3 separate regions of the Homo sapiens genome follow, and all the other regions are linked to region 3. The links come from fine-mapping of genetic effects on gene expression. A gene starts in region 3. Each other region holds a variant in brackets. All regions are shown on one strand. Distances are between the middles of the regions.

Region 1 (4,225 bases), 68 kb before region 3:
CTTCAGAACATTTATCCCCACCCTGTGACCTCAGAGGAGTGCTAACCTCGAGGGGGCAACGGCAGTCATCATTGCTCTGGTTAAACCATGTGGCAGAAGAAACTGCAAGTGCAGAACAAGCCCCATGTAAGATGCCACCCACCACAATGTTTGGTGAGGATACAAACATTTCTCCCAGGACCTCCGAAACCCACCAGAGGGCAAGACAGAGGAACTTTTTAATGGAGGCAGCATGGAAAAAGCTGAATTCAGCTCCCTTATTTATTAGCTGTGTGAATCTGGACAATTTATCTTACATCTTTGAGCCTCAATTTTCTCATATGTAAAAGCAAGATAATAATCATGTCCCTTCTAGGGTTTGCCTAGCACACAATAGGATTTTGATAAAACTCTGTTCCCTTTATTCTTGCATTTCTTAAGTCTCAGAGAAGTAAAGGGTTCAAGGGAATTTGTGGTAAGCAATGAAAAGCACTTCATCCTTCTGTGTTAGGCACCCATTTGGCCATGGCCAGTGGCCCTAATTTATGGTACCAAAGAAACAAGAACAGAGGATGTCACACCCAAAAGTAGACACAGTATTTCCAAAGGTCATCAGTATCCACAAACGACACACCTCAGTGTCTTCGAGGAATCCTGTTCACTGCTATAAAATTAGCATTTCACAATCTCTACCTTTTCCTCTTGAATAATTAAGTAAAATGGAATAGGCTGTAGTTACCAACTACTTGGTATGCAGAGGTGAGAGGACTGCTTAAGCCTAGAAGTTCAAAGCCAGCCTCGGCAATATAGCACGATTCTCTGTCTCCTATTAAGTAAATGTTCAACTGCTCATCTGCCCTAAACAATTTCCAGGTTCGCAGGCTTGCTCTCTGTTTGAACTTACCAGACTAGGGAAGGGAGACCACATGGTATAATGAAAAAGTTTGGAGTCAGGTAGACCCGGAATTGGAATCCAAGGATTGCCATTTAAAACCTGTGTGATGTTGAGGGAGTCTAAATTTAACTTCCCTTAATTCAAATCCTTCATCTGTAAGTGTGACATATTAAAGGAGTATTATGGGAACTATATAAAGTTATGCCTACCACAGCACCTAGCAAAGAGGAGGCACACAATTCGTGTTAATTTCCTCACTGTCTCAAAGTCCCCAGTCACCAACTGTAGTAGTCAATTAAGCAGGCTTTCAAAAGCTGGCTGTATGACTGGCCTATCCTACCACTATAAGTGTTTACCAGGCACACACTACTATGTACTAGCACTGTAGGAAATAGCAAAGAAATGATCTCATTCCTCAAGCAGATTACCAGAAGAAGCAGGAGTTATTTATAAGGAAGGCAAATATGAAAAGGAGCTAAATTTAAAAAGATAAAACAACAAACCACACAATTGGGCAAAGGATTTAAATAGGCATTTCTCCAAAGGAGATATACAAACAGCCAATAAGCATATGAAGGATGCTCGACATCACTAATCATGAGGGAAATACAAAACACAATGAGATACCACTTAATCATTAGGATGGCTATTATCCAAACAATGGAAAATAACAAGTGTTGGCAAGGATGTTCTCCATATCCTTGGAACCCTTGTGCATTGCTGGTGACAATGTAAAATGGTGCACCTGCTGGGGAAAACAGTATGGGGGTTCCTAAAAAAAGTAACTAAAAAGGGAATTTGGGGAAGACTGTGGTAGGAAGCACCAGGAATTTATCTTCCCAACTAAATAATTGCACTGGTGCACTCTGTCTGATGTAACTATTTTGTAGCTCTAGAGTCTATTGAAGGCTTGCAACATCCAGAGGAAGGCCTGGATGATGAATTATAATTACTTTCAGTCTATTTCAGCTGTCATCATAATAGCACCAGCCATCTCAAAGCTCCCATCCCCACTGCAGGCAGCTACGCACTTATTCCTGGAGTGGCTTGCACACAGTTTGTGGGAGACAGCAGGGGAGAAAAGGACCCTGTCCTCTAAATATGAATCTATGCTCTGATCAATGTTGGCTGCTTCTGATCACAAAGGTGCAGACAGAGACACAGACGGTAATCACTGTTGTTGCACCTCCACCACACTGCTGCAAGGTCTTCCCACTCACGCTGAAGTGACTTTCAGAGGATTAAAGGGGGCAGCATTTTTTTCACCCTCCTTCACTTTTTTCTTTTTCCCTCTCTGGGACCCGGACATTAAAGACCAGGATATTCAAAAGCAACCACATATATAGGGGAAATTAGAAAGTTGCTATGCATGCCCAGGGAAGAGCACAGGCTCAGAAAAGATCTGAGGAGACCTAACATGTATACCTCTGGCTGATTCTTGGCACAGACACATCCTGTAACAATCAAAATACCAAAAATAAACCCAAAAAACAGTAAACCCAGAGAAGGGGGAGAATCTGTTTCCACAGTTACCATATTACTGGATTTAAATGTCCAATTTTCAAAAAAAAAAAAA[T/AT]CACCAGTCATACAAAGAAACAGAAAAGTATGGCTCATTCAAAGGAAAAATATAAACCAACAGATACTGTCCCTGAAAAAAGACAATGGCAAATCCACTAGACAAAGACTTTAAAACAACTGTCTTAAAGATGCTCAAAGAGCTAAAGGAGACATGGAGAAAGCCAAGAAAACAATGTATAAACAAATGGAAAATATCAATAAAGAGACAGAAAACCTAAAAAGAAATGAAAAATAAGTTCTGGAACTGAAATAACTGATACGAAAAATTCAATGCAGGGATTCAAAGGCAGATTTGAGCAGGCAGAAGAAAGAATGAGTGAATAATGAGTACAATGAATACTATCTAGTCTGAGGAACAGAAAGAAAAAAGATTAAGGAAAAGTGAACTGATCTAAGGGATTGATGAGACACCATCAAGTGGATAACCGTATGCATTGTGGGAGTCCCAAAAGGAAAACAGAAAGAGAAAGGGAGAGAAAACATCTGAAGAAACAATGGCCAAAAACATCCCAAATTTGATGAAAGAGATGAATACAAACATCCAAGAAGCTCAACAAACTCAAAACAGGATTCAGAGACCCACACCAGGACACATTATAATCAACCTTTAGAAAGGGCCAGGCACACTGGCTCACGCCTGTAATCCCAGCACTTTGGGAGGCCAAGGTGGGCAGATCACTTGAGGTCAGGAGTTTGACACCAGCCTGGGCAACATGGCAAAACCCCATCTCTACAAAAAAATATAAAAATTAGCCAGGCGTGGTGGCAGATGCCTGTAGTCCCAGCTACTTGGGAGGCTAAGGCAGGAGGATCATCTGAGCCTGGGATGCAGAGGTTGCAGTGAGCTGAGATTGCACTACTGCACTCTAGCCTGGGTGACAGACTGAGACTCTGTCTCAAAAAACAAACAAAAAGACAACGAGAAATTTGAAAGCAGCAAAAGAAAAACACCTTATCACATAAAAGGGAACCTTAATAAGATTATCAACAGATTTCTCATCAGAAACCTAGGGGGCCATAAGGTGGTAAACTGCTAAAAGAAAAAAAAACAAAAAACAAAAAACCTGTCAACCAAGAATTTTATATCCAGTAAAACTATCCTTCAAAAATGAGGGAGAAATTAAGCGTATCAGTCAGGAAAAAAAAAAAAAAAAAAAAAAAAAAAAGCTGAGGGAGTTTCTTAATACTAGACCTGCCCTGCAAGAAATGCTAAAGGGGGTCCTGCAGGTTGAAATGAAAGCACACTAGAGAGTTGAGTGAAGAAATAAAGATCTCAGTAAAGGTAAATATATGGCAAATTATAAAAGCCCATGTACTGTTCATGCCTGTAATCCCAGCACTTTGGGATGCCAAGGAGGGTGGATCACGAGGTCAGGAGATTGAGACCATCCTGGCTAACACGGTGGGACCCCGTCTCTACTAAAAATACAAAAAAATTAGCCAGGCGTGGTGGCGGGCGCCTTTAGTCCCAGCTACTTGGGAGGCTGAGGCAGGAGAATGGCGTGAAGCCGGGAGGCGGAGCTTGCAGTGAGTCGAGATCACGCCACTGCACTCCAGCCTAGGTGACAGAGTGAGACTCCATCTCAAAAAATAAAAAAATAAATAAAAAATAAAAAAAAAAAAGCCCATGTATTTACAGGGGTTTTTGTAACCATGGTTCGTAACTCTTTTGTAACCATGGTTTGTAGCTCCACTTTTGGCTTTCTGCGTTAAGAGACTGATACATTAAAAAAAATTAGTCTAAAAGCTAATGTTATTGTAACTTTAGTTTAT
Region 2 (4,225 bases), 160 kb before region 3:
TCAAATTCCAAAGAAGGCTATTCATCCTTTGCTTCTCGTTTTGCAAATGAAAATCCTTTCCCTTGCCCTGTGGGCTCATAGAGCTGGGAATATAGTTTGACAACACACAGTAACCTTAACATAAAGCTGCTGTGTTGGGCGGATTCAGCTTCAGTGATAGGCAAGAGTGCTTTTAAACATTTGGTCTAAGAAAAACAAAACATTAAGATTAATTAGTTGTTGGTGTGTTAATAATTTTAAACTCTGGGCAGGTTTAGATAAGATTTCCATGTCTCCAGTTCTCTCTCACAAGCTTTTCCTCAGTTCTCTAAGAACAAGGATAGTTCATCTTTTTCAGATTGTCTATCTGTACACCTTTCATTTATGCTGTGATTCCGTCTGATCTTTCAATTAGTGTTCTTAAGTGAAGCCAGCTTGTCTTAGAATGTAGTTTTCAGAAGTCTGTAACTGAGAATTATAATATTAGATTCTGTCTCTGTTGATAGACACATTCTTTTACTGGGAGTATGAGTGTGTTAAATGTAACAGCTATTATTAGCATTTCACTAAACTAATTGGGTGAGTTTAGGAACTCATTTCATGTTTCAGGTGGCCACTGTGTGAGGGACTTTACCTTGGAATCCTGTTAATGGGATCAGGGTTTTTCTTTTCTTTTTTTTTTTTTGAGACAGAATTTTGCCCTGTCGCCCAGGCTAGAGTGCGGTGGTGTGACCTTGGCTTGCTGCAACCTCTGCTTCCCAGGTTCAAGCGATTCTCCTGCCTCAGCCTCCCAAGTAGCTGGGATTCTGAGCACCTGCCACCACGCCTGGCTAATTTTTGTATTTTAGTAGAGACCGGGTTTCACCATGTTGGCCAGTCTGGTCTCGAACTTTGACCTCAGGTGATCTGCCTGCCTCGGCCTCCCAAAGTGCTGGGATTACAGGCATGAGCCACCACACCCAGCCAGAGTCTTTCTTAAAGAAGCAATATGCCAAGATGTGCTTCGTGACAGAGTGGTTATCCCACCATGTTCTTGTTTGAGTTACTTTTACCCTATGGGGAGACCTTACTCAACATCTCGGTCAAGTAGACAGCCCCCCAGAGGAGTGAGCTCACATTGAGTTTCTAGCACAGGTGCTTTAGCTACTTGTACCCTTTACTCCTTTACCAAAGAGCATTCCTTTGTTACCTGGGAAGGTTCTTAATCTATCCTGTGTAGCCTTGGGAGGGGCATTCACTGGGCAATAAGGAAGAAACAGGACTGCCTGATTAGCTATGTCAACTCTAGGGACACGTGGTGTGACACACTGAGTCAGAACACCCTGACATCCCTGTTTCAAACAGGAAGTGTTTCTTAGGCCTAACGGCAAGTCCATGGAGGCAGCACCAGGAGCCACATTAAATGTATTAGTAGCACCATATCTTCATCCATACCTCCAGAATCCTGTGTTTCTATTAGCTTAGGAGGTGACTTCAGAGTCTGAATTGCTTGTTTGGGAATTTCTGAGCAGCTGGATTTCTTGTGACACCTAAGAGAGGGTTCTAGATGATTAGAAGCCTTCCCAATCATCCAAAAGCAATTGGGGATTCTCTTGGTTAGTGAATTTTTTCGTCAGGGTAGGTAGATAATTGGGGTAAGTGGATAACAGTATTGGAGAAGGTTTGGCCATCAATTCTTGGGAAACTGTTTTATTGCAAAGGTCCAGCTGCTCAGAGGACAAGCCAGGGATGTGGGACAGAAGGACATATTGACAAAAGTTTCTTAAATATTTTGGTTGGGGAGAAATAACTGAAAAGCACCCTAGTTTCTCACAGGGGCTACTGTAAGTTACAAGGTCACTGGAGACAATTTTCACTACAAACTGCCCCTGTGACTTTCAACAGTTGGAGATTGTTGTCAGTCTCGTTTGGACATGGTAATAGAAAGACAAAGTGGTTTCTTGGAATAATTTTTCCATCGGTTTAGAACTTTCAGCCACCTTGAGAAAAGAAAGCATCAGATATGTGAGATGGTTTTTATGGTCATTAGCTATGGCAGTGAGGAATTGTGGCCCCACATCTACTCACACTCTCAGGGCTACCTTACCCACGGAAGAATGACTGTGAATAAGGAGAACAAGAGGACTCCCAAGAAATTGATAGCAGTATCTTAACGAGCTCTTTTC[C/T]TTCAAACAAGAGGAGACTGACACTTACCTGGAGGACCTACTTACATGGTCATGAAAAATGAAGGATTACTGAAGGAGAAGGAAGTGGGATTTGGGGAACCTCTACAGGAATGCAGTGGGCTTAGTTTTTTAATATGGACCAGGTCTTGTTTACCTTTGTGTTCCCGCAAGGCCTAGCCCTTCTTAAGTTTTCAGTAAATATTTTGATATTAGCTTACCTGAAGGTTTTATATTGTTTATATTTCCTATGATTTATCAGTCTAGAATATAAGCATATTAAGCAGTGATGAAGTCTGAAAGTAGAGAAAACTTCAGATTGTTTCAAAATAGGTGATTTGGAAGGTGTATTTATTCTGATAAAGCAAATATATAGCTGCGATGGGAAAATATCTAATATGAAACTTTCTTCATCCATATAAGCAGATGTGAAGATGGTATTAAAATCTGATGAAAATGCTGCTGTAGTGAAACAGTGCTAATTTTCTGTGGTCCTTAAATACTGATATTTGATAAAGAGCTAACAACCCTAGAAATCTAGCTCCACTCATAGGAATACGCAAGTCCTTGAATTCATGTTAATTGAGAACAGTCAGAATAATTATTGTATTTTTAAAAATGTAAATGTAAATTGATTGCTCTAGTCATTAGTAAATAACCTACTAACCAAGTCAAACTAAGCCATAGCATTGTTTCACTCCCAGTGGATTAAAGGGTTTAATATCAGTAGCAGCTGGGTGTGGTGGTGCACCCCTCTATTTCCAGCTACTCGGGAAGCTGATGGGGGAGGATTGCTTGAGCCCAGGAGTTCGAGGTTACAGTGAGCTGTGATTGCAACACTGCACTACAGTCTGGGTGACAGAGAGCCTGTCTCTAAAAAAACAAAACACAAAATTATCAGTAGCAATCTCATCTTAAAAAAAAAACAAATTTGGATGCTTTAGAAAGTTCTCCATTACTGCCCGGCCATGGTGACTTACACCTGTAATCCCAGAACTTTGGGAGGCCGAGGTGGGTGGATCACCTGAGGTCAGGAGTTCGAGACCAGCCTGGCCAACATGGCAAAACCCCATCTCTACTAAAAATATAAAAATTAGCCGGGCATGGTGGCATCTGCCTGTAGTCTCAGCTACTCAGGAGGCTGAGGCAGGAGAATTGCTTGAACCCGGGAGGCAGAGGTTGCAGTGAGCCAAGATCGCATCACTGCACCCTGGTGTAGGCAACAGAGTGAGACTCTGTCTCAAAAAGAAAAAAAAAGTTCTCTATTACCATTAATGGGTAGGTAATGGCAAACCATTGTTTCCTTTTTTTTTCAATTTTGAAGTCAGGTTATTGAATAAGTACAATTTAAAGACCTGCATATCTTCCCCACAACCCCCCTTGAAATTTAGACTTAAGAATTCATATTGGCCAGGTGCGGTGGCTCACACCTGTAATCCCAGCACTTTGGGAGGCCGAGGCGGGCGGATCACCTGAGGTTGGGAGTTCGTAACCAGCCTGACCAATGTGGAGAAACCCCGTCTCTACTAAAAAATACAAAATTAACCAGGTGTGGTGGCGCATGCCTGTAATCCTAGCTGCTCAGGAAGCTGAGGCAGGAGAATTGCTTGAATCCAGGAGGTAGAGGTTGCGGTGAGCCAAGATCGCACCATTGCACTTCAGCCTGGGCAACAAGAATGAAACTCCATCTCAAAAAAAAAAAAAAGCATATTAATAGAGTAAAAAAATGGGTGTAACATAAATGTATCATAATAATGATTTTATAATCTAGGATGGGCTTTTGGAAGGGAAAAATGCTGTAATTCCTATTTGGCTAAAAAAATTAACTGGGTTTCTCATAATTTGAAAAGAATCTAATTCTATTGAGAATATTTCAGGAAAGCTTATATAATTAAGTATATTAAATAATTAGAATTATAGGAAAATATTGGCAGAATAAACTATATATTTTTTCTTTTTAATAAAGTCCTTTGTGTCTGATAAACTATATTTTGAACTTGTAATGAGAAGTCATAAACGTAGAGAAGACCAACTTCCTGGGAGCAATAGGTAATCTGGGTATAGAAATTGTACAAGGTGCCAGG
Region 3 (4,225 bases):
CCCCAGATACCAGAGGAAAGGGGACTTCAAAACACTCTAGCTAACCTCTACTACTTTATCTGTAAAATGGGATTACTGCAAAAATTATATGTAAATGTATGTAAAGTACCGGGCACAGGGGAATAGGCAAATTCTAACATCGGAAATGCTCGAATGCTGTTGGTTCATGGGCAAGAAAACAAATTAAAAAGATGCCACACCGCTTCCCCCTAAAATATGTTTCTGCCCTGCCATAGAGGCAAGAATGTCAAAGGTGGCAATTATTATATTTCTTATAACAGATATGACACTCTGGCCCTTCCAAGGAAATAGAAAAACGTAGCAAAGCTAGTAGATGCTGCTCACCATTCAAAGCTGCCCCAATCCAGTCCCCAGAATGTAGGTCTGAACTAGTCTTGAAAGTCACACCTTAAAGTGAAACACCCTTAGATCTATTAGCTTGCCTATTTCTGAATTACAGCTCCTATCAAGAACAGAGAACTTCTAAAATCGGCGACTCTTTTTAGGCCCCAGATTTAACCAATTTGCGTTAGCAACCCCGGAGCTTAACCAAAGCACTCCCAGCTGTCCTAGCGTGTGGGTAACAAAAAAAGCAGCAAATGGTCCTCAATTAAACATCAGCTGCTTTATCTATTTATTGAACACTCACTGTATTGCAAACACAATAATCCTCCCATTCTTGTCTCAAACGCTTAGAGAAGTCTAAAAATCATGGACAGAGAACAACAATGGAAAACACCAGTGCCTGCTGTCTGGCCAACCTCTACAAGATTAGAAAACGGACCAAGACACCTTCTGAGAAGAAAAAGCTGTTTCTGGAGACCTTTGCACTAAAGGGTTCAAAGCAAGTGGACACCTATCACATATCCCTTCAGAAAAGGAACCTCTAACACCCGTTTTTAAGAAACAGACTGTTCTTAGAGGTCCTATAATCCATCCACTGTGTGAGCCAAATCTCACTACATCAGCCATGAGCACTAGAGCCAAAAATTAATTAGCTCGTCTTTTAAACAGGAGGCTGTAGCTGGGAGAAACGGCTGTTTTGAAAATAAATAAGGGCACTGGCGCCCACGCTGGCTTAGCTTGCAGTCACACGCACTTCCATCAGGGGAATCGAGGCCAGGACAGATGGTGACTTTTTTTTTTTCCTACTAGCACGGTGAAGGCTTTTTCTGTGCGTTCCCGTCCGCAGTCCCTGACCCTAGTCTGGGAGGCAGCCCGCTCTGCAAGGGGACAGGGCGGGCTGGAGGAGGGTGGGAGGTTAGGACACCGACCTGAGGAGTTCAGATCGTTGGGTCGGCTCTCGGCCTCGGAGCTCTGCTCACTGCCCATGGTGCCGACAGCGGTGGCAGCAGAAGAACGGCGGGCCGGGCGGTCACCGCTCCGGCGGCGGGCGACAGGGCAGGGGCCAGGGACCGGGACGGGGAGGCAAAGCAGAGTCTGGGCGCCGCAGCGAGGCTAATGTGTGGGGCTGACGCGTCCAGCCCACGCAGGGGCCTGGGCGGCGGGAGAAGGAGAGGCCCTATTTGGGGAACAGAAACGCAAGGAGGCGCGGCGCGAACGCACGCGGCTAGCCCTCCTTCTTTCCGGGAGCCCTAAGAGAACCGGCAGATGACACTGGCTTTGCCGCACCTGCGGCCGGCGGGCGGCGCCGCTTTCACTCACTGGTTCACGCTCCGCAAGCTCGCTCCTTCCGGGACGCAGATGGGCGGTGCCGGCTACGCAAGACCTTCAGTTCCGGATTAGGAGGCCCCGCCCCCCGGCCCGAGGGAGGGGCGGAGAGACCCGCTCCTGCGACTTAGGGCGATGCCACCTTAAAGGGCTTGACCTCCTCGAAGCCAGAACTGCGGAAGAGGGTAAGCCCTTTCCTGTTGTAAGGATGCGTCACCTTTAAAACACCACCCACACTATTAAGCTCTTCAATACCCACATGTGAGAACAACTTTACAAAATAGGTATTTTTAACCCTGTTTTACAGATGGAGAAAGAAACGCTAGATAGACCCAGGATTCGAACCCACAACAGCTTGGATGCAAAGCTCATTTTGAATTCTGAAGAGCTGGGAGTTTAGCAGTGGACGACCAAACAAAAAAATACCAGAAGACGGTGAAAGCAGCAGCTGGAAATGAGAGAAAAATTAAGAAATAGAAAATGCTGTTTCATGTATTAGGGAGTGCACATCTTTAAAGAGAAGTGAAGAACCTTTTTGGCTAGGCGCTTTCTGGGGACCTTGGCAGTTATCAACAAGTCACTCTGAAACTAACAGAAGGTGAGGAGGGAGTAATCCAGAAAGGAAACTGCCATTTTTGCTAGGGCAAGAAAGTAGACCTAGCAATGCAATGCCATCAAGGAGTTAGCTGGCTCTAGCGTTCTCCGAACTTTGCAACTCATTTTATATTACATTGTCTGCGTCAAGAAATTTCAAGTAAATGCCTTGAGATTTTATATGTATAAAATGTAGTCTCTGGCCAGGCGGGGTGGCTCACGCCTGTAATCCCAGCACTTTGGGAGGCTGAGGCGAGTAGATCACGATGTCAGGAGATCAAGACCATCCTGGCTAACATGGTGAAACCCCGTCTCTACTAAAAAATACAAAAAATTAGCCGGGCATGATGGTGGGCGCCTGTAGTCCCAGCTACTCGGGAGGCTGAGACAGGAGAATGGTGTGAACCCGGGAGGCAGAGCTTGCAGTGAGCCGAGATCGCGCCACTGCACTCCAGCCTGGGCGACAGAGCGAGACTCCGTCTCAAAAAAAAAAAAAAAAAAAAAAGTCTCAGAAGAAGTGTCAAGTTGACTAAATGATTTTTAAGTCCCTTCCACTCTACTATATCACAATAATTTCCCCTATTTTACCTTATTTAATTTTCACAACAACCCTGCAGCCTGTAAGTAGGTGACTCCTCCATGGTCAGCAGGTGGTCAGTGGTCGAACTATTTAGGACTATCTGATGCTCTTTCCTCTGCTCACCATTGCAATACAATGAGAAAAATGCAAATGAATCTAAGTACAGTGTTCTCTGGGAATATGAAGATAGAACTAAAAACTGCCTGAGAGATCAGGGCAGGCTTCTAGAAAGTTGTGTCTAACTAGTCTTGAGGTTTACATAAACCACACCAGGCTGATGGGACTGGGAAGGGCCCACTAAGCAGTGAGACCATTCCCTTTTGGAGAGTCCTTGCATCCCCTCCCAGATTTCCTCTTTGAGGGGAAGGTGAGAGAGGAGGTAAAAGGGGTGAGGAATGGAGAATAACTCATTCTGGTTCTTGTTTCCCCTTTTCCACATAAAAGTATATTTGTCTTGTGTTCCATACACCAGTCCATACTGATGTGATGGTGTTTTTTATGCTTCCTTTTGAATAAACATTTCATTCTTAAAAGGATAGTCTGTCGCATCAACTGATGAATGGATAAATAAAGTGTGGTAATCATGGAATATTTATTCAGCCAAAATGAGGGAAGGATGAAATCATACTGATACATGCTACAACATAGAGTAACCTTGACAACATTATTCAATATGAAAAAGGCCTGTCAGGCCGGGTGCGGTGGCTCACGCCTGTAATCCCAGCACTTTGGGAGGCCGAGGCGGGCGGATCACGGGGTCAGGAGATTGAGACCATCCTGGCTGACAAACTGAAATCCTGTCTCTACTAAAAATACAAAAAAAATTAGCCGGGCGTGGTGGCGGGCGCCTGTATTTCCAGCTACTCAGGAGGCTGAGGCAGGAGAATCGCTTGAACCCAGAAGGCGGAGCTTGCAGTGAGCAGAGATCGCACCACTGCACTCCAGCCTGGGCGACAGAGCGAAGACTCCGTCTCAAAAAAAAAAAAAACAAAGCGTATCACAAAAGACCACATATTGTAGATTTCATTTATATGAAATGTCCAGGAGAAGCACTACAGAGAGAGAAATATGTTAGTGTTGCCTAAGGCCGAGGAGGGGTACGGGTGGAAGGGAAATGTAGACTATTATTGGGTATGGGGTTTCTTTCTGGGGTTGATGAAAATGTTCTAAAATTGTAATGATGAATGCACAACTCTGAATATATTAAAAACCACTGTAGAGTACACTTTACCAGGGTAAATTGTATGGTATACAAATTCCATATCCATAAAGCTATATTCAGTAAAAGAACATATGAAGATAAAATTCCTTCCTTCACTGGCTTAACATTTCTTGGGAACCTGAAATGTTCTAGGCACTTGCTACACGTTAAAAATAAAA

Which allele goes with the higher level. Alleles are on the strand shown, and positions count from the first base shown. SD is a standard deviation of normalised expression in the study named. Not every link is listed here.
In carriers of allele T in region 1, the expression in NK cells of the gene that starts at base 1,706 in region 3 tends to be lower than with AT alone (large effect, 0.81 SD a copy in Schmiedel 2018).

Evidence for each region. PIP is the estimated chance that this variant, and not a neighbour inherited with it, causes the effect.
Region 1: its variant is the best candidate, but not a certain one, in a credible set for the expression of BORCS5 in NK cells (Schmiedel 2018, PIP 0.55).
Region 2: its variant is the best candidate, but not a certain one, in a credible set for the expression of BORCS5 in whole blood (INTERVAL, PIP 0.52).

What each region holds. Positions count from the first base shown.
Region 1 is chr12:12,422,832-12,427,056 of GRCh38, reverse strand. All of the region lies in intron 2 of BORCS5 (BLOC-1 related complex subunit 5), which reads right to left. Among named protein-coding and RNA genes, the nearest start is that of BORCS5, 68 kb to the right of the region's middle. The variant T/AT (reference allele first, on the strand shown) is at 2,451.
Region 2 is chr12:12,514,952-12,519,176 of GRCh38, reverse strand. All of the region lies in intron 3 of DUSP16 (dual specificity phosphatase 16), which reads left to right. Among named protein-coding and RNA genes, the nearest start is that of DUSP16, 46 kb to the left of the region's middle. The variant C/T (reference allele first, on the strand shown) is at 2,145.
Region 3 is chr12:12,354,559-12,358,783 of GRCh38, reverse strand. BORCS5 (BLOC-1 related complex subunit 5) reads right to left here and starts at 1,706. Exons shown (of 4, transcript NM_058169.6): 1 at 1,275-1,706. The coding sequence starts at 1,332. It overlaps LOH12CR2 (loss of heterozygosity on chromosome 12, region 2), which reads left to right and starts at 1,717. Exons shown (of 2, transcript NR_024061.1): 1 at 1,717-1,856; 2 at 1,979-3,376. RefSeq lists enhancers at 277-356, 1,243-1,921 and a silencer at 1,297-1,376.